2 separate regions of the Homo sapiens genome follow, and region 2 is linked to region 1. Evidence: fine-mapped expression QTL. Tissue or cell type: lymphoblastoid cells. Region 1 holds a variant in brackets; the other region holds the start of a gene. All regions are shown on one strand. Distances are between the middles of the regions.

The links. PIP is the estimated chance that this variant, and not a neighbour inherited with it, causes the effect.
Region 2: it holds the start of KLHDC7B-DT, and the variant in region 1 is fine-mapped to the expression of KLHDC7B-DT in lymphoblastoid cells (GEUVADIS, PIP 0.95).

What each region holds. Positions count from the first base shown.
Region 1 is chr22:50,799,244-50,804,430 of GRCh38, reverse strand. It overlaps the pseudogene RPL23AP82. Among named protein-coding and RNA genes, the nearest start is that of RABL2B, 18 kb to the right of the region's middle. The variant A/G (reference allele first, on the strand shown) is at 3,267.
Region 2 is chr22:50,546,714-50,551,841 of GRCh38, reverse strand. KLHDC7B-DT (KLHDC7B divergent transcript) reads left to right here and starts at 2,895. Exons shown (of 4, transcript NR_199716.1): 1 at 2,895-2,946. It overlaps KLHDC7B (kelch domain containing 7B), which reads right to left. Exons shown (of 1, transcript NM_138433.5): 1 at 819-5,128. The coding sequence ends at 1,891. It overlaps SYCE3 (synaptonemal complex central element protein 3), which reads left to right. Exons shown (of 3, transcript NM_001123225.3): 3 at 440-730. The coding sequence ends at 597. RefSeq lists silencers at 2,748-2,907, 2,988-3,417.

The DNA.
Region 1 (5,187 bases):
ACTCCCCACTACTGCACCTCAAATCTTCTTTCTTTAAGTTGAAGATAGTATTTATGCTTGAATTGAAAGCCACCTGTTGGAGATTTACTCATTTTTCCCTGAGTATCTCCCATGTAACCATAAGATATACATGTTTTTAAACTTTTCTCTTTTTCTCATTTTAATCTGTCAGTTTTTACAGAGCGTTCCATCTAAGAATTCCAAAAACAGAAAATTATTTTTCCTCCCCTATTACAAGTTGGTCATTTTTTTCCAAAGCTAAACAAGTCTCACCTTACAATCCAAAAATAACATTCCTAGGTATTTTGACAACTACTTTGATGTTATTTCCCATCAAAAGCTACCATGCAGTTATTTACAGAAGCCCTATTCATAATGACCAAAGGAAAAAAAAGGAATCAGAAAGTCTTACAATAGATGACTGTGTGGGAATCCACTCAGACATCAAAAGTTGTTATAAAGATTATTTAAATGAAAACATTTGAGATACTGAAGATGAAGAAATCTTACCAGAACTTACTTTATCCAATTAAAGCACAGCTCCCAGAAAAATACAGCTGCCATTAACCCCATCCAAGGAGTTTCTTGCAAATTCAGCTGCCATGAAGACAGCGTACTCTTTCCCATTAGCATTGATAAATGAAAATTAAATTCTAAGCTCCCAACTGACTGAACAGACCCACTCTTGGCTGAGGGGACCCCAGAGTAACTTTCAAAACTGAGTTCTCAGCTTTGCTAGGATGGGATGATGGGGTTAAGATACACATCGTTATACCCCCTCCTTTGCTAACCATGATGAGGCTTTCTTCCCTAAGGATTTAACAGAAACCAGCCCTTTCAAAGCCTCCACCACTGATATCAACCTCTCCTTTCTTGCCTGATAAGAGACCACCCACGATGGAGAGGTTCTGGCCAGCGTACAGAGGATGCACAGAGCGAGTTTTCATGTCCTCTGCTTCACCTTTTAATGTCAGAGGGCTGAAAACTCCACCCTGGGATCATGCTAACACTGCCATTTTTTGTACATGGGACCCATGAAGAAGCAAGAAACTCAATTGTGCGTGCATGCATTTCTCCTTCCATAAATATTCATGACTCCTCCTAGAGCTTATTAAATAAATCTATTTGGCCATTCCACTCAGCATAAGTTGCTATTTCCTTTACCTCCTCCTTGAAGCATCTGTTTCTGGCTTCTGGCTGGAGGCTATGCTTCCCAGCCTGTCAGAAGGACAACCCTGCAGGCTACAACCCTTTATAGAAAATAAATCTCTCACTGGGTGGGTGGCTCATGCCTGTAATCCCAGCACTTTGGGAGGCCGAGGTGGGTGGATCACCTGAGGTCAGGAGTTTCAGACCAGCCTGGCCAACATGATGAAATCCTGTCTCTACCAAAACTGCAAAAAATTAGCCAGGTGTGGTGGTGGGCATCTGTAATCCCAGCTAATCAGGAGGCTGAGGCAGGAGAATCGCTTGAACCCAGGAGGTGGAGGTTGCAGTGAACCAAGATCACGCCATTGCACTCCAGCCTGGGCAACAAGAGTGAAACTCTGTCTCAAAAAAAATAAAAATAAGCATAAAAATGAAGAAATGTCTCCTTTCCAAATTTATGAACCTCATCATTCTTCCGTTCACAGCATTAAAAGGTTCAAAAAGACCTTTCCATACTCTCCCACAGAAGCCCTAGAAATTGTCATTTTGTTCATCATTCTGGATGCCTGAGAACTTGTAATCCAATGAGTAGAAAGTTTGGTACCCCATTTATGGCTGTCAACCTGCCAGTTCTCAGGAGTTTGTATAAAAGCCTAAATCCGAAAGGATCTCATCCCATTAGGACCCTTGTCTCCTTTTCTGTTGCCTTTGCCCACTGGCTCTGGCAACAGGGGTCTTTCTTTCTCCTTGGCTATCTTTGGATATGGGGGCTCCGTCTTCTGTGCCACCTTAGGGAATGCCTTTTGCAGGCATGGCTAACTCATTAAAAAGCCTACAGTTTCAGTAACATTTTGAGTGAGCACTCTCTGAAGCTGCGTTGGAATCTCAGGCTTCTTTGTCTGGAAGATAACTCTTGGGCTACAAGTTTCTTATCCTACCTTTGGTTTTGAGGCCTCTCTGTTCTCCTCTTGGGTTGGAAGTTATTCCTGGCTTTTTGTTTCAAGGTGTCTGTGATCTTGATCTTGCTGCTTTCATGGGAACTTCTCACTTCACTAAATTCTCCCTTCTCAAACCTCTGCTGACTATGTGTTCCACCAATATGGAACTAATTCTACTTCTTTTCCTGTTTGCATGACTTTACTAAGAATTATTTACAACTTTAATGGCTCCTTTGAGAAAATTTTTATCTTCCAAATTGCCTCCTTTTAGACCTTTCCTTTCCCAGTTGAGTCTCTCAACTCCCTATAATCACTGAAACTTCAGGCACCCCACTCCATGCCTTGGAGGCTCTCAATGTGCTCAAGAATCTGCAAAAGCAAACACCTGGGGCTGAAGAATAAAATAGAAAAAAAATTATTTCTCAGCCTCCATAAGATTCTATGTCAAAAAAAAAGAAAATCTTTAAAATCTCCAAAAATATTGGTGAGAAAAAAGCCTTAGCCCTCATATGAAGAAGAAAAAACTTGTTCCATTTTCCAGATACATAGTTATAATACAAATATAAAATGGGGCAAAGACAAAAACCAAGTCTTCTATATAAACTAGTGAATTGTGTAGTTATTGTAATCACATTAGTCAGGGGTCTCCAGAAAGGCAGAATCAATAGGATATATGTAGACAGATGACAGAAGATTCATTAGGGGAACTGGTTCACATAATTATGGAGGCTGAGAAGTTCCACAATAGCCTGTCTCCAAGTTGGAGAACCAGGAAAGCTGGTAGCATGGCTCACTCCAGATACAAAGGACTCAGAATCGGGGAAGCCAATGGTGTAACTCTGATTGTGAGGCCAAAGGTCTGAGACCCTGAAGTTCTGATGTCAAGGGCAGGAGAAGAAGGATGTTTCCATTTCAGAAGGAGATAATTCACCTTTCCTCTTCCTTGTTATTCTATCTGGGCTCTCAACCAATTGGATGCTGCCTGTATTCATCCATTTTTATACAGCTATGAAGAAATACCTGAGTCTGAGCAATTTATAAAGAACAAAGGGGTTTAATGGGCTGACAGTTCCACATGGCTGCAGGGGCCTCACAATCATGGCAGAAGGGGAAGCAAAGCTGTCCCTCTTCACATGGCAGCAACAAGAAGTGCTGACCCAAAGGGGAAAAGCCCCTTAT[A/G]AAACCATCAGATCATGAGAACTCACTCACTGTCATGAGAACAGCATGGCGGTAACCACCACCATGATTCAGTCACCTCCCATTGGGTCCCTCCCACGACATGTAGGTATTACAGGAACTACAATTCAAGATGAGATCTGGGTGGGGACACAGCCAAACCATATCAGTGCCCATCCACATTGGGTCATGGTTATCTCAGTGTCTTCCAGAAACACCCTCATAGATATGCCCAGAAATCGTGTTTGACCAGCTGTGTGTGTCTCTCAATCCAGTCAAGTAGACGTCTACGATTAACCATCAGAATATTTATGCCTGATTCATGGCTGAAATCGTGTTTGACCAGCTATGTGTGTCTCTCAATCCAGTCAAGTAGATGTCTACGATTAACCATCAGAATATTTATGCCTGATTCATGGCTGAAATCGTGTTTGACCAGCTATGTGTGTCTCTCAATCCAGTCAAGTAGATGTCTACGATTAACCATCAGAATATTTATGCCTGATTCATGGCTGAAATCGTGTTTGACCAGCTATGTGTGTCTCTCAATCCAGTCAAGTAGATGTCTACGATTAACCATCAGAATATTTATGCCTGATTCATGGCTGAAATCGTGTTTGACCAGCTATGTGTGTCTCTCAATCCAGTTAAGTAGATGTCTACGATTAACCATCAGAATATTTATGCCTGATTCATGGCTGAAATCGTGTTTGACCAGCTATGTGTGTCTCTCAATCCAGTCAAGTAGACGTCTACGATTAACCGTCAGAATATTTATGCCTGATTCATGGCTGAAATCGTGTTTGACCAGCTATGTGTGTCCCTTAATCCAGTCAAGTTGATGTCTAAAATTAACCGTCAGAATATTTATGCCTGATTCATGGCTGAAATCGTGTTTGACCAGCTATGTGTGTCTCTCAATCCACTCAAGTAGATGTCTAAAATTAACCGTCAGAATATTTATGCCTGATTCATGGCTGAAATTGTTTGACCAGCTATGTGTGTCTCTCAATCCACTCAAGTAGATGTCTAAAATTAACCATCAGAATATTTATGCCTGATTCATGGCTGAAATTGTGTTTGACCAGCTATGTGTGTCTCTCAATCCACTCAAGTAGATGTCTAAAATTAACCATCAGAATATTTATGCCTGATTCATGGCTGAAATCGTGTTTGACCAGCTATGTGTGTCTCTCAATCCGATCAAGTAGATGTCTAAAATTAACCGTCAGAATATTTATGGCTGATTCATGGCTGAAATCATGTTTGACCAGCTATGTGTGTCTCTTAATCCAGTCAAGTAGATGTCTAAAATTAACCGTCAGAATATTTATGCCTGATTCATGTCAGAAATCATGTTTGACCAGCTATGTGTGTCTCTTAATCCAGTCAAGTAGATGTCTAAAATTAACCATCAGAATATTTATGCCTGATTCATGGCTGAAATCGTGTTTGACCAGCTATGCGTGTCTCTCAATCCGATCAAGTAGATGTCTGAAATTAACCATCAGAATATTTATGCCTGATTCATGGCTGAAATTTCAGGATGAAAGCTATGAAATCTCTATTTGTGTTTGTGTATCTATTAATGTATGTTATGTATATGTGATATTTTCTTAACTCCAGAGAGCATTGCAAAATTCATTTATGAAATCCTCTAAAAGTGCTCTATTCTAACTTGGCTTGGAAAAAAATAAGCATTTATAAATAAATATTCACCAAACTCCTAGAAATATAGGAACTGATCAAATGTTTCTTAAGTTAACATGATTTGGATAAAACTTAGTTAAATAAGATTAATATAGTATTTTTGGTGTAATAAAACAACTATATCTTCAAAATTATCATTATTGAATATAAAACAAGCATAAATTCCTATTCTGCTTGAGTTCTAGTCAAATAAGCTAATATTATACTTACTAGA
Region 2 (5,128 bases), 250 kb after region 1:
ATAAGGTGACATGAGGTTTGGGTCTTGCAGGACTGGAAACAATCAACTCTACCTGAGTGTGTGAGCTTGGGTGGATGACTCCTTAGGGGTCACCTGCAGCCATTGGCTGTGAACTGCTTGTAGGTAAGGAGCTGCGGTTTGCTCTAATTCTCCTCACATTTCGTATCAGACCAGCCTCTAGTTTTTTACATCATGTCTGGTGTATCCAGAAGTTATGCCTTGCATGAGACTAGGAAGCGTCACTATGGATGTTTGTAGGGAGTTTTTATGAGCCTGTAACAAGTAGCCTACCAGCTGTCTCTCCCTAGAGTAATTGGGTGCCTCAGCAGGATCTGGGCCTCCAGATGCTGAGCCCAGCTGGAGGCATCTGACCCTTCTGGGGCACCCCAGAGCTGCAGCCCCTCCCTGTGGCCTGACCAGTCCTGTCTGCTTGTTGCAGTGCAGGCGACCTGGATGGCCTATGACATGGTGGTGATGCGCACCAACCCTACGCTGGCCGAGTCCATGCGTCGGCTGGAGGATGCCTTCGTCAACTGCAAGGAGGAGATGGAGAAGAACTGGCAAGAGCTGCTGCATGAGACCAAGCAAAGGCTGTAGGCCCCACTGGCCCACCACAGCTGCCATGCCACCCTCTGCCCGTATGAAGAGGTCACTGGGGGATGGAGCTGGCACCCACATGAATAGCTGTATGCACTGTACTTGTTTCTTAATAAACTTATTTTTAAGCACAGCCCGAGGACCTCTTCTCTCCTGTGCCATGATCCACCCAGCTGCATATCAAACCTTGTGAACAAAACACAACAAGTGCAAGCTGCAGGTGCTTTCGGTGAATTAAAATGTATTTGGTGCCAGTGGTGCTGAACATAGAATAAAAAACAGAAAAAGGGCCCAGACAGGGACATCCAGGCTGGAGGTTGGAGTGGAGCACAGTCAGATGTATTCACTTTTCTAGCATGGGTTTCAAAGTGCGTAAGGGGAGAAAACGCATCATGGATTGTGCTGTGCATCCTGGACACCGTGCGAGGTGCTCATAGCTGTGATCTTGTCTCCCACAACTCTCTTGGGTGACAGACGTCCACTGTCCACATTTTATAGACAAGGAGAAAGGGAAGTCAAATGTCTCGTCCAAGTCTACACAGCTAAAAAGGGGCAGAACTAGGGTGACGCTCAGGCCTCATTTAGAGATCGGGGGTTGGCGAGAAGTGGGGTGGGCTTCTGGAGGGGCTGGGAGAGCCCCACAAGGCTGCAGAGGGTGGTGAGCCCGGAGTGGGCCTGGCCTGGTGTGGGCTGGGGGTATGGGCAGGAGCTGCAGACAGCAGGGCTGCACCAGCGGACCAGTTTCAGAGGCAAGGGTTCTAGGCCCTTGAGAATCCACAGTGCCAAACAGACCCAGATAGCTACGGGGTTGGTACCTGGGGAGGCCTTAGGACAGGCAGAAAGTCCCAGAGGCGAGGGCGTTGCCTGGGGACGTTTTTGCTCCCTGTCCTGCTGACAGAGCATAGGAAGTGTGAATGTTTTCTACCCCCTCCTCTCTCGGCTCAGCAGAGCTCCAGCGAGCCAAGTCCTTGTCTGTGGAGACGCATCAGTCCCTGGCTCTAGGGAATAGGGAGTCCCACAGACAGGGGGGTGTCAGCAAGCTGAGAGGGTCTGTAAGTAGGTACGGAATTGAGTCAGGAAACAGTCTGGGTGTGGAGTGAGGGGCAGAAAGAGGCTGAGGGAGTCTGGGCTTCAAAATAATCGACAACCTTTAAAGCAGAAGGGGAAAGTTGTCCAGAAACAAGAGCAGGAAGTTCCGATCCCAGCCCCTTCCCTGAGCCCCGGCCTCTCAGGCCCATCCCAGGAGGGTCTCCCTGGAGAGCAGCGAAGCAGCTTTGGTTCTCTGCCTGCCACTCAGAGTGAGGTCTGCAGCCGGTCCTCAGGGGGCAGAGTCAGGATGAATGGACTGAGGACCCCGGTGCTCCCCAAGGGGAAGGGCTGCAGCTCCTTGGCCTGGAACTGGGCAGTCCCCCCAGAGACCGTGAAGGTGGCAGTGACCTGGGGGTTGAGGCAGTAAATGGTGTTGCCCAGGGTGGTGCAGTGCAGTGGGGCGGGGGCGGGCAGGGGCAGGGAGGCAGCCCTGCTCCAGGAGCCGGTCACTGTGTTGTAGCGCATCACGGCGGCGCCCACGCCCCGCAGCAGGTCGAAGCGGTACAGGAAGCCCCCCAGTGCCACGATGTCGCTGGAACGCCGGTGGCTGGCACTGTATGGGCACTCGTCCCAAGCATCCTTCACGGGGCTGTACCTGAGCAGGCGGTAGAAGAGGTGACCCCCGGTGACGTAGATGTCCCCACGGCAGGCCACAGCCTCGTGGGCCACAGGGAAGGTGCCTGCGGGGAGTGGCGCGCGTGGGGTCCAGGCGTCTGTTCGCGGGTCGTAGCACTCCATGCTGTACAGGCATTCGCCACCGATGGCATAGAGCAGCCCGTCCAGGGCCACCAGCTTGAGCTGGGCTCGGGCCTGCTGCATGGGCCGAACCTGGCTCCAGATGTTGGTCAGAGGGTTGTAGCAGAAGACCTCGTTGGAGCAGACGGCCTTGGCACCGGAGCCACGGATGCCCCCCGCCAGAAACAGGTAGTTGTGCATGGTGCAGAGACCGCAGCCCCGAAGCGGGGCCTCCTCGGGCACCTGGGTCAGGGGCCGCCAGGTGTTCTCCCGGGGGTTGAACACATGCAGGTGCGCAGGTAGAGGCAGGGACACAGGGGCCGCCGCAGGAGGCTCCTCGCCACGAGGGCCCCTGGGGAGCCCTGAGCGGCCCCCCTGGTAGAGGCTGGGCAGTACGAGGACGCCCAGCACCGCCCGGCCCCGGCCGGTCCGCAGGCTGAGGATGCGCTCGCGGTCGGCCGCGCTCAGCCGGCGGTAGAGGCACGGGTCTCCCAGCACTCGCAGCAGGTTGTCGCTCATCAGCGCGTAGGTCTCCTGCGCCAGGCCGGGCTCTCCGTGCTGCTGGGCAAAGGCCAGCACGTCCAGGCAACTGCCCAGGTCCAGCCGCCGCCGCAGGGCTGCCGCCGTGGCGGGCTCCAGGGCCCGGGAGCTGGGCTTCCGGGGCCCCTCCACCACCCCCCAACCCCCGGGCCTCTGCAGAAACACCATGAGCTTCCGGGCCTCCTCCTGCTTTTCCGTGAGCGCCCCGCTGCGGCCGGCAGGGCTGCCCCCCTCCCCCGGCGCCTCCCCTTGAGGGTCCCCCGAGGCGGCCGGCCTGACCTCCTGCTCCGAGCTCGGGGCGATTTCGCACCTGCTGCGTTTCCGTAGCTGGGGTACCGGCTGTGAGCGCCTCGCAGAGGAGGAGGCCGCGGGGCCAGGCGGCCTCTGCGCGGGGGGCTGTGCGGGGCCCCTGGGCATCGCGGCTTGGGGCAGCGGGTCTAGACTTTTCTCCCTGGTTCCCTCTCCTCTTAGGCCTGGGGGAGGGTCTGGGCTGGGCGATCCGTTGGTCTCGGAGCTTCTTGGCTGTGGCTGACCTCCAGCCTCAACCAGGCCCCCTGTACCTGTCCCTATGACTGTCCCCACTGAAGAAGAGGGGCCGTGTCTGTCCTCAGAGTGTGTGGAAGTGCTGGGACCCACGGGGCTCCCGGGAACCGCCCTCGGGACACTCCCTTGGGGCCTGTCTTGCCTGGGGAAGGGGTGGCTTCTAAGAACCATGGCAATAAGGTTTCCCCAGCTGGCTGAGACCTGCCCCTCCTGGTAGCGCCTGGGGAGAGCCACACTCTCCTGAGGCTTTGACCCGTCAGCTGGGGCAGGGGATGCGGCTGGGGTTGGGGTTGGGGCTGAGGTGGGGGCTGGGGCAGGGGATGCGGCTGGGGTTGGGGCTGGAGTTGGAGCTGGGCTTAGGGCTGGGGTTGGGACTGGGGTTAGGGCTGGGGATGCGGCTGGGGTTAGGGCTGGAGTTGGAGCTGGGCTTAGGGCTGGGGTTGGGACTGGGGTTAGGGCTGGGGATGGGGGTGTGAGGGTTGGGACTGGGACTGGGGCTGGGGCTGGAGTTGCGGCTGCAGCTGGACTTGGGGCTGGGGCTGGGGTTGAAGTTGGAGCTGAGGTTGGAGCTGGGGCTGGGGCTGAGGTGGGGGATGAGGTTGAGGTGGTGGCTGAGGTTGGTGCTGAGCTGGGGGATGAAGCCAGGGCTGGGGCTAGGACTGAGGCTGGAGCTGAAGTTAAGACTTGGGCTGAGGCTGAACTTGGGGCTGGCGCCGCTCTGAGATTTTCGCCCACGGAAGGATCCTGGGTAACCTCCAGGGGCAAAAAGTCTGAAGGAGAGGGGAGAGTCAGGGCTTCAGGTGGGAACCCCGGGCCGGGAGCTGCGGGCGGGGAGGCGGAGCGCGGGCGAGGCTCACGGCTCCGGGAGGGCGCGCGGCTGTGGCCGGCTGCAGCCGGCTTTGCTTGCTCCGGGGGCCGGGTGGGCCCCAGGTCAGCGGCAGGACTGTTATCTCGGGAGCTGTCAGCCCCGGCCTCGCCGGCATCGTAGGCCCCTGTGGCACCCGGCCCTTGGGACGAGAGTGGGCGACCTTGAGGCGGACTCTCTAGCCAGGGGCGCGTGGAGTCTGGGGCTGGGCCAAAGCTCCGGGTGCCCGGGACCTCCCTGCTGACCCAGGGCCAGCCTCCTCCGGGGGCAGGGACCCCCGAGGCCTCCCTGCTCCAGCCACCCTTGGCCCCAGAGCCTTCCGTCTGAGACCCAGGCTGCAGGGCGCGGGGAGCGGGCAGCGCCGGGAGTGCGGGCTCCTGGGCGAGTGGGGGTCCTGTGGGGAGGCCGCGCGCGTGGGCGTCCAGGGCGGCGGCCCCGTCCACCGCGTCCCACACGCTCCCCGCGGCGCCCAGGCGGAGCGGGTCCAGTTTCCGGGGGCGGCGGGCTCTGTCTCCCGAGCCAGCGTCCATCCGCCGCCGCCGGCCCCGGCCTCTCCCCATCGAGCCCGAGGGCCCCGCGCCCGCCTGCCAGGGGCCAGTGTCCTGTTGCCCCGCGGGGCCTGCGGCCTGGCGAGAGGACGCCCTGACACCACCTGTCTCCGCCTCCGCTTCGCTGCCAGGGCTCCGAGGAGTGAAGTGGATCAGGAGGGGGGCGGACATCCCCCCTGCTTCGCTCCTGCCCAGGAGGGCAGTGCCTGGC